Homo sapiens: one gene and its partner. The protein of the gene in region 2 interacts with the protein of the main gene of each other region in a pairwise test. Each region holds a gene or a part of one and is shown on either strand. Other genes may lie near its edges. The genes, in order: NID2 and RBP3.

The links.
Region 1: the proteins of RBP3 (region 2) and NID2 interact in a two-hybrid assay, tested with the Homo sapiens proteins (one large-scale study listed by BioGRID).

What each region holds. Positions count from the first base shown.
Region 1 is NC_000014.9:52,058,992-52,062,810, forward strand, and holds part of NID2 (nidogen-2 precursor), read right to left. Parts: intron 1,366-3,819; coding exon 1,133-1,365; intron 1-1,132.
Region 2 is NC_000010.11:47,351,363-47,355,181, reverse strand, and holds part of RBP3 (retinol-binding protein 3 precursor), read right to left. Parts: coding exon 3,644-3,819; intron 1,858-3,643; coding exon 1,667-1,857; intron 1-1,666.

The DNA of each region.
Region 1 (3,819 bases), on a different chromosome or scaffold from region 2:
GAAACAAGGACTCAGCATAAGATAAAATAAGTAGTTCAGCACTCCAGACTTGAGCTTGGATTTTGGCTTTGCCACTTAACTTTGAGATCATAGGCAATTTACTTAACTTCCCTAAGCTCCTCTGTAAAACTGGGAAAATAGTAGTACTAACCTACAATTCTTGTGAGTTTTAATTAAGATAACATCTGGAAAGTGTTTAGCATGATGCTTGGCAAGTAGTAAGTTTTCAATAAATGTCAGCTCTGAGTAAGCAAACCTGGCTATAGTGGTCTCTTTCTGGTAGCCGAGCAGAGTGGATGGCATGCTAAAAGTGTAAGGTGTTTCTATACCTACCCAGGATTGATTTAATGAAGTCAAGAAGCAGTTAAAGGAGGCCAGGAAGTAACCAATGTATTCTATCTGGCTTCTATATTCAGGAAACGAATAAAAGCGAGGGCACCCCTACCTCCCCTCACACACCCCCCAAAAAACCCTGAAGTCAATAAATATCCTACTGGCACTATCTGTACTGGCAAAATGCAGAAGAGCTTATTATTGCACTAGCTAAGTAAGCCCTCTGGATCATTCATTCATTCACCCATCTATTTATTAAATGCCCATTATGGGCAGACACTGATGAGTCTAAGGAATGGGTTCAATTCATTTTAGGTAATGAAGCCAGAGAGACATCCTCAGACTTCTGGAAACCTATAAATCTTAGTTATTTTTCCTGCAAATTACATTGCTCAATTTAATGTTTAACAGTATCTGTCCAAAAGACTAAATCACAATGTTTCCTCCTGTGAAATGATTAATCTGGAAAACCTCAAACTGGGCAGTTTATGACTGGATATTTTTATGTGGTTCCAAGAGCAATGTTTTTCATAGCAAGCCTCAGTGGCTCTACAAATACACACACATACTGTTCTGTTTCCAGTATCTATACCCAATAGAGCAGGAAAAATAAAGGACCTTTTATGTTTTGGTGAACTTGATCCTTCCAGGGTTGAATCTAGTTCCTTGGTTTTGACTTGATGCCTTACTTAGAAGCCACCAATATATTATGTAATGGTCTTATGGTCACTTGTGTTCAGGTACTTCCTAAAAGTCCTTATATTCAAATAGGAAAGGGCTTCAGCTCAATGTTACTTACTGATAGAGATTTTTCACAGACTGTTCAGTGCTAGTCAAGCTGAAATATGGTCCTTCTGACTTCAGATCATCAGCCTCCCCTCGGCAGAAGCCCACCCGAGCTGGAAGCTGAAGCTGGACATTGTAAGACTCTTTGGGGCGGGTTCCAAGGAACTGCAGGCCGTTGGCAGGATAAAGAAAGAGGGCGTAGCTATCAGACCCATCAGATGCCAAAACTGCCTGGAAAGTGTTCAGCTGTGAGGAAAAAAAAAAAAAAAGAGAGAGAGAGAGAGAGAAACATCCTGTAAAAAACAAATAAAAGAAGAAAGAAACAGAATGCAAGCAAAGCATCATAACGTGCAAAGAACTTCCCCTTTTTCAGGATTCCTCCAAATTGTTTTTAAACATAACCTTCTTTAAAATTTCCTCTTCAAGTTAACAATATAATTTCATAAGCAATATTATTTATTATTGCAAATACCATTTGTCAATTTAGATTAATAGTTGAAATACGCATTGGTAAAACATAGGTTAAAAAATATATACTTTGTAAGGTTTCAAACTTCTCTCATGTAAACTCTTTCAGAGCTAAGAGCAATCAGCAAAATTAACTTGTCCATCCTGCAGTCACTGCCCTAGTTTATAACCCTAGGCACTCAGCATCTCTCATTTGCATCATTCATTCATTCATTCATTCATCCATTTATTAAATGACCACTATGGGCAGGCACTGTGTTAGGCACTAGTTGGTCAAAAGGCCTCCTTACTGTCTCACAGCATCACTCTCTTTCCTCTTCCATCTACCCTTTCATACGAGCATCAGGGTTATCCTCATTTCACAGATGAGAAAAAGACACAGGGGCTAACAGGTCTTCCTCAGGTCAGGTGGCAAGTATGTGGTGGTGGGCCAGCCAGCTCTAGAGCCCACACCCTAGGACACCCTAACCCCTCCTCAACATGGCATTCAAGGTGAGTTGTAACCTGGCTGCATACGTCCCTCCCAGGCTCAGTTCCACTGCATCTTTGTCAGACTATTTAATAGTCCCCATTTGTACCATGTCCTTGGATGCTTCTACACTTTGTTCGTGGTTCCCTGTGCCTAGAAAGCCTCCTAACCTTCAAATGCTGCCACTCAGAGGTGTTTGTGATTCCCTATAGAATAATTTCTGTTCTCTGAACCTCTGTAACACCTTTATGGGCATCTCTAGTGAGCATTCACCTCATTATGCTTGGTTAGTTGTTTATATGTTTGTAAACACCATTCATTTATTCATTCATACACTAATTCAAACAGCCAAGTGTCTACTTAAGCACCAGACGTTATGCTTGATGCTGAGGATGTGAAGGAGCAAAAGACAGGCTTTGCCCAGGAGAGTCTCACGGTGTAGGACTGGGAAACAGCCATGGTTGAAATGGTAGGAGAGTCACTGGAGAAGGTGGTAGAGGCCAAGAGCCGGGGTGTGTGTCCAGGATCTCAGGGTGGAGGTTGGGAGGTGTCACAGAGGCAGCTGGTGAATGTTATAAACACTGCAGGAGCCAACACAGACCAGAGAGGGACCAGGAGCCTGAATCAGCTGCCAATTCAACACCCAGGTCCTTATAGGATCACTCCTTAACATTCTGTTTACCCTCATATTTTCAACAAGATGAGATTTTTGCCTTTACCTTCATTCAGCGACCGCTCCTCCTAAAGATCTGTGAACAGTGCTTGATTCTCAAAAAGCTGTTATGTTTAGGCTTCTGAAACTGTCTCTCTCTCACTAAATCACACTACTTTTACAATTTAGTAAGGAACTGGGAAGGTATTTTTAAAACACAACTTACTTCACAAATAATGTGACTCTTAGAAATATTATTTACTGGTAAGTATCATTACCTTTCCATTCTGCTAGACAGACAAACTCGGGCACAGAGAAGAACATCACATTTCACTGAAGGAAACAGCAAGGAAGGAATGGGCTCTTCCCTTTGTTCTAAGTCTACTCCCACAGTTGTTCTAGCTCTTTTCTAATGTTAATTTTTCCTTTCAATGTTTAATTTCAAAGTAAGGTTTTGAGGTTTTGCTAATAGGATAAAGAAATATAGATGTAACACACTTTTCAAGAGAAAATAAAATACAATCAGCAGTTCTTTTAGTTCTCTAACCCAGAAAAAACAACATCTTGCTTTGCTTTTTTCATTCATTCAATTCACAAAGTAACAGGTGCCTAGTTTATTTGTTATTGTTCCAGTTGTTGATTGTTCATCAGCAAAGCTTGACTTTTCCAAAAACAAAAAGCAAGAAATGTTTTTAGAGCTTCTCAATACTAGGAAGCCACAACTACTGCCAAATATAAACAAAGGCTGTTCTGCCTCATGTCTATCCATAAGATAGTCGACATCATCAACTAATGTGGACTCAATAACTTCAGAGTTATACATTAGTCAGAATAAAGAAAAATCAACTAGGGAAAGAAAAGTACTAGAGGAAGGAGAAAAAACCCCATTTCAAAAAGCTAAGCTTTCAAAGCTCCTGGCATTGATCTGCCATAATAAATGTGAGATAGGAGAGAATCCTGGTTCTAAATTTAGAGAAATTCCATAAGATAAGGAGGTTGTAGAGACTGTGAAGAATTGAAGGGGATGGGGAAGGGGGGAAGAGAGTAGTAAACAGAGCTGTGAAGAGGAGAGTCTGACTTTTTGCTGTGAACTCTGGGCATTTAGCACTTT
Region 2 (3,819 bases):
AACAAGAAACTTAGTGATCAAATATGTTATCCTTTCCTTCTGCTATGTAATTAATACATGTTAATATATTAAAGGCCCTGACAAGTCCTGCAGTCAGAAACTTGTTGATAAATTTCCCCCATTTATTGACCATGGACTGCTCCCCTGCACCCATATCTTCCTATGAGTGGAACACATTTTGGGAAACATTGTTTTTCCCGTTGCATTCTGTGACAATCTTATGACACCTACCAGCTGTCTTAGTTCAGGTGTCTTAACAGGGCACTTAGTGTATTGAAATATTCAGGCTTGTGGAGCTGCATTGGGAGCAGGGGAGCCTGTATTTCTCCCAGGCCATTTAGATTTGTCCCACTGTGTGACCTCGTTGGGCCCCTGTCTCCCCACTGGGGCTAGTGATGTGTTAAGGAGCCTCGTCCAACTGATGGCCTGGGATGGCCTGGCTGGGTTCGGGGCCTGTGATGTCAGTGTCTGAACCTCCAAACAAACCTCAGGGGTGGGAGGGTCTTTAAGCAAAGTGCACTTGCAGGCTGGGGCCATCTCCTCTTTAAAAAGTGTAAATGGCATATTCAGAAGAAAGAGACTTAGCATGAGTGTCATTTGGGTGCTCAACAGAACTTCTAAAGAATAAAATGATCAGAGAGACCCCAGGAGCCTCAAGCTCAGGCTGTGAACACACACAGAACTGGAGCCAGGGCTAATGTTTTATCTCCCAGGGAGGAGAAGCAGTGGGTGCAGGACCGAGAGCCACCTAGTGACCACTAAGAACCATGTGAGTGAGCGCTGAGGGCTAGAGAACTGGAGCTGGGTGAATGCTTCTGGTCTGCCACCCCCTGCCACTTCTTTCAGACAACACGGGAGCATGGAAGGGTCCCGTCTGAGGAAGGCAACCTGCCCAGGGAGGGTGCTGGGGCATGTCCACCAATGGACCCCAGAGTCATGGGATGCCAGGTCTGGCCACTGCCTGAGGGTACTCATCCACCTCCTACCCCTGGTCCATGAGGTAAACTCATGACATATGAGGCACATTTTTACAGAAACAGAGGGGAGGTGGCTAGCTGAAGACATCCTTCTGACAATCATTTGGTGATGCAAAGAATTCTTTTGTTAACAATAGTGATTAACTTCTAAATTTTCCCTGTGTGATTTCCAAATTCTGCCTGTACGATTCATATGACCAGGGTTGTCATGTGTTGATTTTGTATGATGTGAGGCACACTCCCAGGTGGGGGGCCTGGCTGTCTCACACACCACTGACCATCAGAATCACCTGGGATGCCTGTCAAATAGAGATTATCGGGCCTGTCCCCTGGAGCTTCTGAGTCAGTAAGAGGGGAGTGGGGCCCAGGAATCAGTGTTTTTAACATCTCCTTCCTCTCCTCCCCACTGAATCCTATGACCAGGCAAATCTGGGGTAATTCTCAATCTGGAATGCACATTGGAATCACTGGAGAAGCTTGCAAAAACTACCAGTGCTGGGCCCCACCTGCAATGACAGCAGATCTGCTGGGCTAGCTGGCCGAAGCCCTGATAGGCAGGAGGCCTGGCCCCCCTCAGGTCCTCTGCTGTGTCACAGGGTTCCTTTTCTTCCCTGCTGTGGCCCATAGCTTTGACTGTCCCCTGGCAGCCCTGCGTCCTGGCTAGGAAGCACTGACCCCTGGCCACTGACCTCATGTCGATGATCATGGCATCCGTGTGCATGATCTTCTTCCAGATGTGCTCCACCAGCAGCCTGGAGACCTGGGTGAGCAGCTCACCGTCCCCAAACATGTCAAACCTCAAGTAGCCAATGTTGTCCTCAAGCACGTTAGTGTGGAAGGAAAACTTGATCAGCTCTTCAAATACTTCAGGGGAAGGGATCTGTAAGAGTTGGAGGTCCTACTCAGTGTCAGGAGGAGCAGCCAGTTTTAGAGCCCAGGAAAGCAGGCGCCATGGGAAATATTAAGGGCATGGGACAGGAACTAACATTTCTGAAGGAATTAGTAGACACCAGGGACTTTCCCAGTGGCATGTCTGGATGTGACATGCCACTGGGACATGTGTGATCTATGGGCAGCCTCCTTGCAGAGGATGCTCCTGTCTGCCACCCACATGCCCTGGTGTCCTGAGCTAGAAGGCCCAGGAATGGACTCCCCTCTGACCTCTCCAACCTTACCAGATACTTCCTATGTCTCTAAGCTGCTCCACTGGGGCAGGATTGGAAGATGTTAGTTACCTTTACCAGGCACCTGGCCCGGTACTAAGCACTTTGTAGAGCTTATCATCATCCTCACAGCCACCTGTACAGGAGATAACACGATCCCCATCTTTTCCATGGAAAAACTGAAGCACAGAGAGATTAAGTAACTAGTCTCAGGTCACACAGTCAGTAAGTGGTGGAGCCAGAATCTGAATCCACATCTGACTCCAAATCGTGAACCTTGGCTATACTGGAAAGGAAGGAGATGTTGATTTGGAAACTGGGGATTCTGCAAGCCTAGCACAGGCTACTCGCACGTGGATGCACCTCCTCCTCCCTCTCTAAGGCTGCTGGAGGGAGGCAGGTCTTGGTGAGATTGACAGGCAAGGAGACTTCATTGACAGAGACACTGCCCTCCAGGCCCTGCCCTGCCCTCAGTCACAGCTCTCTGGCCTCAGGCCACTCCCCTCTGCTCCTCTCCGGGCCTCAGTTGCGGAAAATGGGGATAACAATTCTGTAGTAGATGCTTTTGGCACTCTCAGCCCCCTCTGCTTTCAGCTGCACCCGACCCCACTGACAGGCTCTCCTATAGCACAGCCCTGCCTTTCCACCCGTAGCTCAGGCCTTCTCCAAGAAGAGGGAGCCTGCCCCACCCTGAGGCATGTCTCAGGGCAACTCTTGGCCAATGCGGGACAGGAACCACTGGGCCCTGCCTGCAGAGGGCTATGCCTGGGAGCATCCCTGCACTCGTCAGGGTCCTGGCTTCAGCAGAACAGCTTTGAGGCACCTGCCTGTCAGCTTCCCAACCCACTCTCCCTGCTCCCTCCTTCATGCCTGCTTCAGTAACCGCCTCCCAGACAAAGCGCCTGCACCCAAGCCCTGGTCTCAGACCCTCCTTGCAAGGGATCCCATGGCAAATGCTGCCCTGCCCAATTGTGACGATGCAGCAGACCACAGGTAGAACAGTGTGGAGGTGTGAGTGCTGCCTAGGTGGAGCTCTCGGCCAGCGTGGGGCACTTGGTGAAGTCCATTGGCCACCTCTGACAGGTGTTGGCCTCTTCCCTAGCACTGACAATGAGAAGCCCTGCCAACACTCACCTTCCACCCAGCCAAGGCTGAAATGCCTTCTATCCCAGGAGCTTCCGAACTGGCTTCCTGTGAGTATTGGTTGGCTTTCAAACTGGCTTCCTGTGAGGTGGGTGCAAAAGTAATTGCGGGTTTTGCCATTGAAAGTACTTTTGCACCAACCTAATATGAATGTTCTACAGAGGTGTTCAGCAACCCCAGGGTCACAGAGAGTGGATGGAACAGGTTGAGAAAGAGGAAAGGACTTGACCGGTCAAAACTTAAACGTGAGAACAAATCTAAAAGCCATTGTCACGCACTGTGCACAGAGCCCTGCATGTGCGGACAATGGGTCAACTCACTCCCGGGACTGGGTTCAGCCAGGTCTCTCTTGGGTCTCACCTGCATGGGCACAATTCCAGGAATGCGGTCCTTGGCATTCTCAGGGATATGGGCTGCCTTCAGGTGTGGGTCTCCGGAGAGCATCTGCAGGTCAGCCCCCAGGATCTCGGCTAGGGCCACTTCTGAGGTCACCCTGGAGTAGCGGCTCTGCAGACCGCTCAGTTTGGTGGCCATCT